Homo sapiens: one gene and its partner. Changing the gene in region 1 together with any one later gene gives a genetic interaction. Each region holds a gene or a part of one and is shown on either strand. Other genes may lie near its edges.

Region 1 (5,052 bases):
CTGCTCAACCTCTGCCCACAGGGATGTTCATGTGCCTGTCCCATGAAGCCTGCTGCTGAAAACATCAATTCCTCATTTAGACATTCTCAGACTTGGCATCTTCCCCTCTTCAATCCCCAGTGACTCTTCCCAACCACCTGCCAAGCACTGTGCTCTGTAGCCACAACCCTAGGGATTTAGGGCCACAAGGGCAGAGGCTCTGGCCCATCCTGGCCTCCTGCTCAGCCTTGGCCAATGGGGCTAGAGGGTTCTGCCCAGCTGCCTTCACCCCTCTTCCTTGCTTACTGGTCTGACCTGGGGGCCACGCTCAGCTTGAGGCAGGGGCTTGTTAATGGGCAGGTGAGCCACCCAAGGCAAGGGCCAGGCAAGGCCCTACTGCACCAACCCATCGTCCTCCTCCGCCCCCAGTCTCTGCCCACCCCCGCCCAACCCCATGGCTATTAATACTCAGAGCTTTGCAGAGATGCCCACTGGGTGCAGAGACGAGAGAAATTGCTCTCATCTCATTGTGCCCCTCTGTGGAAACAGGGTCAAGGGCTCAGGCCTGGGCTGTGCCGATAAGGCTGGCCTCTGAGGATGAGCATTCAGGTCCCTATATCCCAGAAGAGGCCCCTAGGTCACCAGGGAACCATGAGCAGGGCCCAGTAGAGAGGCAGAGTCCAGACCAGCACAAAGAGAGAGGCAATTTTATTCTTCCAAAAAAATGCACCAAGAGAGGGTGAGCACAGGAGCACCCCTGGCCACATCCCCCATCCTAAGCAGGGTCTGAGATGAGGCCAGGCCTGACGTGGGCTTGGGAGAAGCTGACGGAGCTCCCTGTGGCCTTGGGGAGGGAACCAGGCAGACCTGGAAGTGGAACTTTGTTGTTAGCACCAGGAGCCGCCCACAGCTGGGCTCGGCAACAGGGCAGCACATGGCCCTGTTGCCTCCACCTGAGAGTCTGGGGAGGGGCTGGTGGCAGAAGGCTCCCTGCAGGAGGTCACCTGAATGACTCTCAGATTCACAGACCCCCTCTGCCCCCACAACCCCTGTAAACATGAGAATGGGCTCGTGACACCCTCAACACCTCAGGACAAGATGAGGGTCCGAGATGTGTGGCTGGGCTTCAGGCGGCCCAGGAGCTGCCGGGCTTTCTCCTGCATGAAAAGCTGGTCCCTGGTCCCCCCGCAGGCCACCGTCTTCCAGGCACTGGACATCTGGGAGGAGGCAAGAGGGTTACCATCCAGGCAGGGACTATGTGTTCCCAACAGACCCTGGTGATCCTGGCCAGGGAAGGGTAGAGTTATAAGCCTCCCTCCCCTAGAAGCCAGAGCCTTCTTATTCTCTCTCCACATTCCCTGTGACCCTGGACAAGTCACTTCCTGGCTGTGGGCTTCCTCAACTGTAAGTAGGACGCTGGACAAGGAGACATGGCCATGCACTGCCCGCCCCGTGCAGCACCAGCCTCGAGGAGAAGCCACAGCCAGGAGGCGGGTGAGAAGGAGCAGTGAGACGGGTCAGCAGCCTGAAGCCAGCCCCTGCTTGAGGACAGACATGTACTAAGCAAACCAAATACAGGGATAATGACTTAGTTACAAGTGAAACCCAGGCCACAAAAGAGAGAATGGCAGAATGGGGGTATCTCTACAGAATGTAGGGTCAGAGAAGGCTTACCCCTAAGGAAGCAGCATTGAGACTGAAATCAGAAGAGTAAGTTAAGCAAATGCAGCCACGGGAAGTAGCAGGAAAAGCACCCAGGCAGAGGAACAGCCTATGCAAAGGCCCTGAGCTAAGAAGGCGGGCACTGCAGGACCCCCAGGGATGGCCAGCACTCAGCCCTGAGCTAAGAAGGCGGGCACTGCAGGACCCCCAGAGATGGCCACAGCACTCACAGGGGCAGGTGTCGTGAAGTGGCTTCGGGGCTTCTGGGCCACTGCTGCCTTCTCGGGCTTGGCCTGCAAGAAGCCCTGGTTGAGCAAGCTGTTGTCTTCTTTGATACCTGACAGGGTGAGGCTGGAAGAGTTTGAAGGGGCAGTTGTCGGCTGAAACCAAAACCAAGTCAAGGAGTCACCATTTTGCGAGAAGCTGTGAGAGGGAAGAAAAAAACCCGCAATCCCACCCCAGCACCACCACCTGGCTGCTGAGACCTGAAAGAGGATACACACTTTTCCAAGCCTCAGTTTCTGCTTTCAGATAGGGAGTTTACATGAGCTTAAGCTTACTTTATACTTAAAAGATTAAGCAAAGGGCCAGGAGCGGTGGCTCACGCCTGTAATCCCAGCACTTTGGGAGGCCGAGGCAGGCGGATCACGAGGTCAAGAGATCGAGACCATCCTGGTCAACAGGGTGAAACCCCGTCTCTACTAAAAACACAAAAATTAGCTGGGTGTGGTGGTGGGCGCCTGTTGTCCCAGCTACTTGGGAGGCTGAGGCAGAAGAATGGTGCGAACCTGGGAGGAGGTGGAGCTTGCAGTGAGCCGAGATTGCACCACTGCATTCCAGCCTGGGAGACAGAGCCAGACTCCGTCTCAAAAAAAAATTAAGCAAAGAACTTAATCTTGTTCTAAAGAACTTTCTTACTTAAAAAAAAAAAATCAAGTAATCAAGTAAAGAAACGTGTGTGCGTTTCAGAGCCTGATTCAGTGGTGTGTCTGGAGGCACAGTCAAGTACGTGGGGGCACATCAGCCCTGGGATGGGTGCCGTGCAGCCCCCAGGCCATAATAACATAATCAATAAATGTGGAGTATCACTGAGCATTATCCAGTAATAACATACTCAATAACGTTGGCTTTGTCACATAAAGCCTCAGGAGGAGCCAAGGCTGTTCCTAGTTTTCCTGGGACCAGAAACATCCACAAGCATCATAAAGACGCAGCTTCAACCCCAAGCACAGCGGAGTTGCACAAAGCCCCTCCCACGCCCTTCCAGTCTCTCTGCTCTGCTTGGCACTGTGCCCTCCTGACTTAGGCTTGGCACCCCTTTTATAGGCTTTTAACTGGGGCTCAGGGAACCTGAAAGATCCCAGAGAGCAGTGATGGTGTCATAACTCAAACCCAGGCCCACCTGACTCAATCTGTGCTCTTCACTCCCTGCGGTGATGTTTTTTTCTTTGCAGTAACCTGGCTGCAGGTCCCCAGCCTGTCAGAGACCCCTAGCCAGGACAAGGTTTCTCTGCAAGGACCGTGAGGGCAGCAGTCTACTTGGAAGATCAGGCAACCCTTAACCTTTGTTCATGACGCCGCCATGCCTCTCACCGCCTCCCCACTCTGAGCCAGGGCAAGCCAACTCACCCCATTGTGAGCAGAGAGGGATCAGCAGCACACCCTGGCTTCTGGGGACCCAGGCTCTGCACAGGCAACAACCCCCTTTCTGAGGTCGACCTCACTGTAGCACCCGGCACAGCAAGTCCACTGGCCTGGGGGCTGTATAGCACCCATCCCAGGACTAATGTGCCCAAGTGCCTGGCTATACCTTAAGACACATTACTAGGCTGGGCACGGTGACTCACGCCTGTAATCCCAGCACTCTGGGAGGCCGAGGCAGGCAGATCACCTGAGGTGGGGAGTTCGAGACCAGCCTGACCAACATGGAGAAACCCCGTCTCTACTAAAGATACAAAATTAGCCGGGCGTGGTGATGCATGCCTGTAATCCCAGCTACTTGGGAGGCTGAGGCAGGAGAACAACTTGAACTCGGGAGACGGAGGTTGCAGTGAGCCGAGATGGCACCATTGCACTCCAGCCTGGGCAACAAGAGCGAAATTCCAATTCAAAAAAAAAAAAAGAAAAAAAAAGACACATCACTGACCCTCTCTGGGAGAGCGCAGGAGACCCAGATGCATGTTTTTAAAACATGTCCTAGCCGCGCAACTCTGCCAAACAAAACCTTCTGTGAGAGACAAGCAGAGCTGCTGACTGAAGCCATGAGTGGGTGCCCGGACCCACCCTCCCTGATAGCCCCTCCCTGCAGAGCCCAGGGTTCCAGAAGCCCAGTTGGAGAGTCACTACACTAACTCCACCTTGAGGGTCCTCTCCAAAACTCAACAGTTCCAAGGAGCAGAAGCCTTACCAAGGATAGAGACTTGGGCAGTGTGGACATCATCAGCTTCACATCCTCATCCACAATGTCAAGAGCCAGAGACTTCCGGACTTTCTTGATGGGGCTCCGCCGCAGCTAGGGGTTGGCAGATAGAAGGGGGTTAGGGTGAGTGTCTGGATTCCCCATGGTCAGCACCTGGATGGTCATGGCCATGGATGGTCACAAAACCAGGCCCTGCTGCAGTGCAGACTTGGAGCAAGGCCCAGCTAGTGGGAATCTGCTGTCAGAAGAATGGGGTGGCTGGGAAAGTTAGGCCCCATGGCCCCATTAGACTCTGTACCCAAGGTAGACCCTATCCTGCCAGGTGCTGCGACAGTGAGCAGGAACACAGCATGAACCTCCACCACGAAGTGACCTGTTCTCACCCCGAATGGACCAGACACAGCCCCTCAAACAGGCCCAGCAGAGAATCACCCCAGTAACACCTAAAATAGCACCCACAGGCCAGTAATATGGGAACACAAACCCCTCAGGACAAGCCCCTCTACAATGCCTAATACAATCAAGGAACGCCCCATTCCTAACCGTGCACCTCACAGAAGCAGGTCCAGGGCCTGCTCCGATACCAGGGAGCGGCTCTGAGAGTCACATCCCCACTCTACCCAACAGTGCACTCAGCAGGGGCTGCCATGGCTCACAACCATCCCCACCAAGGAGAGGCCAGGGAGGACCCTGGAGGCCAGAGGCCAAGTTCTCTCCACGTGCACATGGGGTGCCAGCTCGGGCAAGTCCCGCCCAGGCTGACCGCCCACCTCCCCTCCTTACCTAACACCCTGTACATCCCACCGTTCCCAGCTCTCCCTTGAGGAGAGCAGTCTGGGAAAAAGGAGCACTAGGAGACTCGAAGGGATCGCGCACTGTCATGAAAGCTAACGACGCAGTGGGAGGGAGGCTGGCATAGAACGGAGGCTTGGGACAGTCCCTTCCCTGCCCCCCTGCCCAGGAGCCCCTGCAGACTCCACCTCACCTGAACC
Region 2 (7,545 bases), on another chromosome or scaffold:
GGATCCCTTGAACCCTGGAGTTTGAGACCAGGCTGGACAACACAGGGAGACCCCATCTTCACAAAAAAAATTTTAAAAATTACCAGATATGTTGGCAAGCCTGTGGTCCCAGTTACTTGGGAGGCTACGGCAGGAGGACTGCTTGAGCCCAGAAGGTTAAGGCTGCAATGAGCCATAATCAAATCACTGCATTCCACCATGGACAACAGGGCAAGACCCTGCCTGTCTCCCTACCCCAGCAAGAAAAAGAAAGCTATACCTAAATTCCACATGATTTCCCCTTTAATGTTACTCCTCCAACCCCAAAATGTTGACTTTAGATGTCTGATAATCTGTTTTTTGGGGTTTTTTTTGAAGACAGGGTCTCACTCTGATGCCCAGGCTGGAGTGAAGCGACTCAATCTTGGCTCACTGCATCCTCAACTCCCTGAGTTCAAGCAATCCTCTTGCCAGCTGCTGGAGTAGCTGAGACCACAGATGCATACCACAACACCCAGCTACTTGCTTTTTGTTTTTGTTTTTGATATTTTGTAGAAATGAGGTCTCATTATGTTGCCCAGGCTGGTTTTGAACTCCTGGGCTCAAGTGATCCTCCCATCTCAGTCTCTCAAAGTGCTGGGATTACAGTTGTGAGCCACTGCACCCGGCCTAATCTACTTCTTTAGAGAATCGACATGGATATACTAAATCCACTAGACAAGTAGACACTTAACAGGAAAACTGAAAAGCTGGATTCAGAACAGCAACACAGCACATAATGGAAGTGATCAACCCTAAATTCTAAAGTTCAAGTTACAGTTCAGTAGCAAAGACCAACCACAAATGGAATAGGTAGGTGGAATCAATCACAAAAGGATTATATCATATAAAAAAATTATACTTACATTTCCAGGGAACTGTGTGAAGGACTGAATCATGTAGAATCGATGCATGTATACTATAGCAGTGTTGATAGTCAATTGTGAGCTGAAGTGTTCAAGTTAAGATCCAAAAACAGGCAGGTATAATTCTGGAAAAGATAACCTCTATCTCCCTCCCAAAAGGATGAAATGGCCAAGCAAGTAGATACTACTAAATGAAAATCATACTTATCTCTCCAAATCAAAGAATATGTCTGTTTTCTTTCACCAAATTATTAATCGCCAACTGACACTTAGCACAATGCCTTACACATAACAAATATTTAATATAAATGTACTGAATGAATAAACAAACATCTCAGGATGTATGAATCTAGACAGATTTTTTTAAAAACTATATAAGGCGGCCAGGCGCGGTGGCTCACACTCTGTCGCCCACACTGGAGTGCGGTGGCACCATCTTGGCCCACTGAAACCTCTACCTCCCAAATTCAAGCGATTCTCCTGCCTCAGCTTCCCCAGTAGCTGAGATTACAGGCGCCCACCAACAGACCTGGCTACTTTTTGTATTTTTAGTAGAGACATGGTTTCACCATGTTGGCCAGGCTGGTCTTGAACTCCTGGCCTCAACTGATCGACCTGCCTTGGCCTCCGAAAGTGCTGGTATTACAGGCGCGAGCCACCGCGCCTGGCTGACAACCTTAATGACAACACACATACAAAAAGGAAAGCATTTTAAGGATGCACTGAAATAGAATTTCGAACAAAAAGATTTAACTCCATACTGACAGGATGCTTAGGAAACAAACCTGGACATCAGCAGGAAACAAACTGGCGATAAAACAGACACCCATTTTGAGATGAACACACCCTTAAGATACACACATTACTGTCAGCCACACATTTAAATAGAAGCTGCACCCAAGAAAATTTTCACACGCAGAGTGGAAAGAAATTTAAAACTATACTAGTTTTCTCCACCATAAAATAAGTGTATTTCCTAACAAACAAAAATATGTGGGAGAGGTTACCTCATTTTTTTTTTAATTTTTTTTTTCTGAGACGGAGTTTCACTATTGTTGCCCAAGCTGGAGTGCAGTGGCGCCATCTCGGCTAACTGCAACCTCCGCCTCCCGGGTTCAAGCGATTTTCCTGCGTCGGCCTCCTGACTAGCTGGGATTACAGCTGCCCGCCACTACGCCGGGGTAATTTTTTGTATTTTTAGTAGAGACAGGGGTTTAATCATGTTGGCCAGGCTGGTCTCGAACTCCTGACCTCAGGTGATCCACCCGCCTCGGCCTCCCAAAGTGCAGAGATTACAGGCGTGAGCCACCGCATCCAGCCGTTACCTCATTTTTGAAAATGAAATACATATCATCACTCTAAGTAAGTTAAGGACCCGGTATTTTGTAAACTATTTAAAACATTAGATTCGTGGGTATCCCCTACAAACGTAAACTAACATCTTTCCTCTGAAATTCTATAAAACAGTAGCTACTAACTGAGCATCTGAATGCAAAGCACTGTGCTGGACACAGAATCAAACACAAGAGGTATTATCCCATTTTATAGACAAGACGGCCAAAAATTTGAGAGGTCACTTAAACAGCTAGTAGATGAGGAATGGATTTTGGACCAAGGCTGAGGCATTAATTCTAGTCCACCCTTTATAACACTTTCAGGTACTGAATTTCTCGAAATTTACACACTAGGTTTGGGAGGCAGCCGTCAACAGAGAAACCTCTGCCAGACCTAGACCCCTAGGGCACAGCGGAAAATGAGAATCTTAACGTCACCAGAGCAGATCAGAACACAATGAAGACAGAGTTGGAAGGGCTGGTTAAAACACAAAGCCGGGAAGGATACGAATTCCCAGCAAGGCTGGCGGCACGGGTGAGCGAGCGGGAAATCAACTCTGCCTCGCTTCCCTAGCGCTAACTGAGTTTCAGCCCGCCCCATCGTGGGCTCTCCCAACTAGACATCCAGCTTCTGCCCACCTTCTTCCCCACTTTCGTCCCCCCCACAGAGCCTGAGACCCGGACGCCAGAGCATGGCGGGACCAACTCCAAGGCCGAAGGCCTAGGCCACAAGGATACACGTTAAGACGCTGCCCCATGTCCTGAAGCAGATTGGCCGCCTGCTGGCGATAAGAAAGTTCTTTATCTGGGTCCACGCCAAAACGACGGGATGGGCTATTTTCCAGCTGTTCTCGAGTGAAATACCACCGTTTGTTGTTGTTCTTCCTCTCTCCCTCCATAGTGCTTCAACCAGAAGGCAGCGGCGAAGGCTGCAGGCACTTCCCAGCGTCACCTAAGAGGCGACCCACATCCGCTGTGCGGGGGCAACTGCGACTTGACGAACTTCCGCTAAGCGTCGACCGCCGGGTTGTTACTTGCCTCCGTAGAGGAAGCAAAAGTCAAAGGACCTACTTCCGGAATGCACCTCGCTACACCCCGTAGCCGAGTTAACAGCCAATATGCGACCAGAAAAAACCTTGAGGCGAGGACGCAGGCGCGTCACGTGACCGTTGGGCGGTGGAGTGGGGTTAGAAGTTCTTTCTTAAAAACCGTGTATCTTCCCGCGAGAACCGGATTGAGCGTTGGCGCCCCGGGTCAGGCTGCGAGGCCGCAATTATAGTGGGATGGGGCGGCCGCCCACGCGCCGCTTGGCGGTTCTTACGAGAACTTTGTTTGTGACGGCAGTGGTGATGTAAAATGGGGCAGATGGGCCGGGCGCGGTGGTTCACGCCTGTAATCCCAGCACTTTGGGAGCCCGAAGCGGGCGGATCACGAGGTCAGGAGTTCGAGACCAGCCTGGCCAATATGGTGAAACCCCCGTCTCTACTAAAAATACAAAATTAGCCGGCGTGGTGTCGCGCGCCTGTAGTCCCAGCTACTCGGGAAGCTGAGGCAGGAGAATCGCTTGAACCCGGGAGGCGGAGATCGCAGTGAGCCGAGATCACGCCACTGCACCCCAGCCTCCAGCCTGGGTGAGAAAGCGAGACTCCGTCTCAAAAAAATAAAATAAGTAAAAATGTGGCAGATGAACTTGAAAGAGAAAGTAGGTGAGGCTGTCAGAAACTGAAAAACAGAATCAAATGGTGGGGCTCTTTCGTATATCGGAGCATAAAGCAACTAGAAGGCTGTTACATTGTTGGTAGCAATGTAAAATGCGACAACCCATTTGGAGAGGTCGCTTTAATGTGTAGCCAAAGGCATGAAAACATTCTCACGTTGTTCGCCAGTGATCCAACTTAAAGGAATAAAATGAAATTAATAACATTAATTAAGAGCTTACATGTCCCAGGCACAATACTGACTTAAATATACTGTTTCATTTATTCAGCACAACTCTAAGAGGTAATTTTTAAGTACGTTTGCGAATGGGTGAACTAAAACTGCCCCTTGAGTGTGGAAAGCCTCCACCACTACCCCTCACTTGCACAGATTAGCAAGTTCTTGCCCTCTGTCAAAATATTTCCCAGCTCCTTTGCCGGGCGCGGTGGCTCAAGCCTATAATCCCAGCACTTTGGGAGGCCAAGGCGGGTGGATCACCTGAAGTCGGGAGTTCGAGACCAGCCTGGCCAACATGGTGAAACCTCATCTCTACTGAAAATACAAAAATTAGCCAGGCGTGGTGGCGCACGCCTGTACTCCCAGCTACTCGGGAGGCTGAGGCAGGAGAATCATTTGAACCCGGGAGGCAGAAGTTGCAGTGGGCCGAAATCGCGCCACTGCACTCCAGCCTGGGCAACATTGCGAGACTCCTTCTCAAAAAAAAAAAAAAAAAAAAAGATACATCCCAGCTCCAGCCTCTGATAACTGTTTGGTGCTGGGCAAGATAGTTAACTTCTCTATGCCTCTTTTCTGTGATAATACCTATGTTTTAGATAGTGAAAGGGAGTAAAGATTTAATGAGTAAAAAGTATTTATAATAGTACCTAGTACTTAGAAAATATTCAGTAGCCCTTATTGTTATAATATTTGTTACATTGTATTGAAATTGAAGGCAAGAGCAATGCCTTCATTTTTGTATGGCACTTACCTAGTAAAGCCCTGGCCCTAGTAAATAGTCCATAAATCTTTGTCAGATAAATGTGCAAAACACCCACAATACAGAAACTGAGGCTTTGGGAGTTTGCCCTCACTACACCACTAATAAGTGTAGATCTTAAATCTAATTCCATTGATCTTTCCATTCACGCAAGCTGTATTCCTGCTTTTCTGGAACCATATTCAGTTTACCTTGATTAAATATGGGTAATTTTAGATAGATTTGGATAATATTAGAATCCTTCATCTTGCTTTGATAATATTTTGGGTTTTGTCATTTCTAGGCATGGGTGATCTTACTATGCTTGATTGTCATTCATTCTCAGAAGTATTTCTTTCCATTCAGGTCACCTCTGCCATATACTGCCTGTAGTTAGTATTAGCTCCATTTTACCCTGGAGAAATTGAGGTTCAGGAAGATTTAAATGACTTACTTCTAGTTATAAAGTAAAAGAACTTGGGATTTCAAATTTCTTCCCTCACAGACTCTTTACTATTAAGAGAATAAGCACTTACAAAATAGATTTTTTAGTAGAATAAGCACTTTTTCAGTTATGTAGTCATGTATGTTATCTTTTGAACAGCTGTGTTAGTCCATTTTCACGCTGCTGATAAAGACAAACCCAAGACTGGGCAATTTACAAAGGAAAGAAGTTTAATGGAGAACTCACAGTTCCACGTGGCTGGGGAAGCCTCACAATCATGGCGGAAGGCAAGGAGGAGCAAGTGACATCTTACATGGATGACAGCAGGCAAACAGAGAGCTTGTGCAGGCAAACTCCCATTTTTTTAAAACCATCAGATCTCATGAGACTCATTCACTATCATGAGAACAGCACAGGAAAGACCCACCCCCATAATTCAATCACCTCCCACCGGGTTCCTCCTACCATATGTGGAAATTGTGGGAGTTGCAATTCAAGATGAGATTTGGGTAGGGACACAGTGCCAAACCATATCATTCCGCCCCCAGCCCCTCCCAAATCTCATGTCCTCACATTTCAAAATACAGTCATGCCTTCCCCACAGTCCCCCAAAGTCTCAACTCATTTCAGCATTAACTCAGAAGTCCACAGTCCAAAGTCTCATCCGAGACAAGCAAGTTCCTTCCACCTATGAGCCTGTAAAATCAAAAGCAAGTTAGTTACTTCATAGATACAATGGTGGTACAGGCATTGGGTAAATACAACCATGCCAAATGGGAGAAATTGGCCAAAACAAAGGGGCTACAGGCCCCATGCAAGTCCGAAATCCAGCAGGGCAGTCGAATCTTAAAACTCCAAGATGATCCCCTTTGACTCCCTGTCTCACATCCAGGTCACACTGATCCAAGAGGTGGGTCCCCATGGTCTTGGGCATCTCTGCCCCTGTGGCTTTGAAGGGTACAGCCTCCCTCCTATCTCCCTTTCCAGGCTGGCATTGACTGTTTGTGGCTTTTCCAGGTAAATGGTGCAAGCTGTCAATGGAGCTACCATTCTGGGATCCGGAGGACCATGGCCCTCTTCTCACAGCTCCATGAGGCAGTGGCCCAGTAGGGATTCTGTGTGGGGGCTCCAACCCCACATTTCTCTTCCACACTGCCCTAGCAGAGATTCTCCATGAGTGCCCTGCCCCTGCAACAAACTTCTGCCTGGGCATCCAGATGTTTCCATACATCTTCTGAAATCTAGGCGGAGGTTCCCAAAGCCCAATTCCTGACTTCTGTGCACTCACAGGCTCAACACCATGTGGAAGCTGCCAAGGCTTGGGGCTTGCACCTCTGAAATCACAGCCCAAGCTCTGTGTTGGCCACTTTCAGCCATGGCTGGAGTGGCTGGGATGCAGGGCACCAACTCCCTAGGTGGCACACAGCACACATGGGGACCTTGGGCCTGGCCCACGAAGCCATTTTCTCCTAGACCTCTGGGCCTGTGATGGGAGGGGCTGCCATGAAGGCCTCTGACATGCCCTGGAGACATTTTCCCCATTGTCTTGGGTATTAACATTCAGCTTCTCTTTAGTTATGCAGATTTCCTCAGAAAATGGGTTTTTCTTTTCTATCACGTCAGGCTGCAAATTTTTCAAACATTTATGTTCTGCTTCCCTTATAAAACTGAATGCTTTTAACAGCACCCAAGTCACCTCTTGAATGCTTTGCTGGTTAGAAATTTCTTCGGCCAGACACCCTAAATCATCTCTCTCAAGTTCAAAATTCCACAAATCTCTAGGATGGGCAAAATGCTGCCAGTCTGTTTGCTAAAATATAACAAGAGTCACCTTTGCTCCAGTTCCCGACAAGTTCCTCATATCCATCTGATACCACCTCAGCCTGGACCTTATTGTCTATATCACTATCAGGCTTTTGGTCAAAGCCATTCAACAAGTCTCTAGGAAGTTTGAAAATTTCCCACATTTTCCTCTCTTCTTCTGAGCCCTCTAAACTGTTTCAACTTCTGCCTGTTACCCAGTTCCAAAGTCACTTCCACATTTTTGGGTATCTTTTCATCAACACCCCACTCCTGGTACCAATTTACTGTATTAGTCCATTTTCACACTGCTGATAAAGACACACCCAAGACTGGGCAATTTACAAAGGAAAGAGGTTTAATGGAGAACTCACAATTCCACATGGCTGAAGGCAAGGAGGAGCAAGT

Evidence for each region.
Region 2: of MYBL2 (region 1) and CCNT1, changing one suppresses a phenotype caused by changing the other (phenotypic suppression), as found in Homo sapiens cells (one study listed by BioGRID).

Annotation. Positions count from the first base shown.
Region 1 is NC_000020.11:43,712,103-43,717,154, reverse strand, and holds the end of MYBL2 (myb-related protein B), read right to left. Parts: intron 4,154-5,052; coding exon 4,049-4,153; intron 2,022-4,048; coding exon 1,872-2,021; intron 1,197-1,871; coding exon 1,068-1,196; 3' UTR 673-1,067; downstream 1-672. UniProt on the Homo sapiens protein: Transcription factor involved in the regulation of cell survival, proliferation, and differentiation. Transactivates the expression of the CLU gene.
Region 2 is NC_000012.12:48,713,559-48,721,103, forward strand, and holds the start of CCNT1 (cyclin-T1), read right to left. Parts: upstream 3,150-7,545; 5' UTR 3,118-3,149; coding exon 2,957-3,117; exon of another isoform or gene 2,727-2,956; intron 967-2,726; coding exon 885-966; intron 1-884. UniProt on the Homo sapiens protein: Regulatory subunit of the cyclin-dependent kinase pair (CDK9/cyclin-T1) complex, also called positive transcription elongation factor B (P-TEFb), which facilitates the transition from abortive to productive elongation by phosphorylating the CTD (C-terminal domain) of the large subunit of RNA polymerase II (RNA Pol II).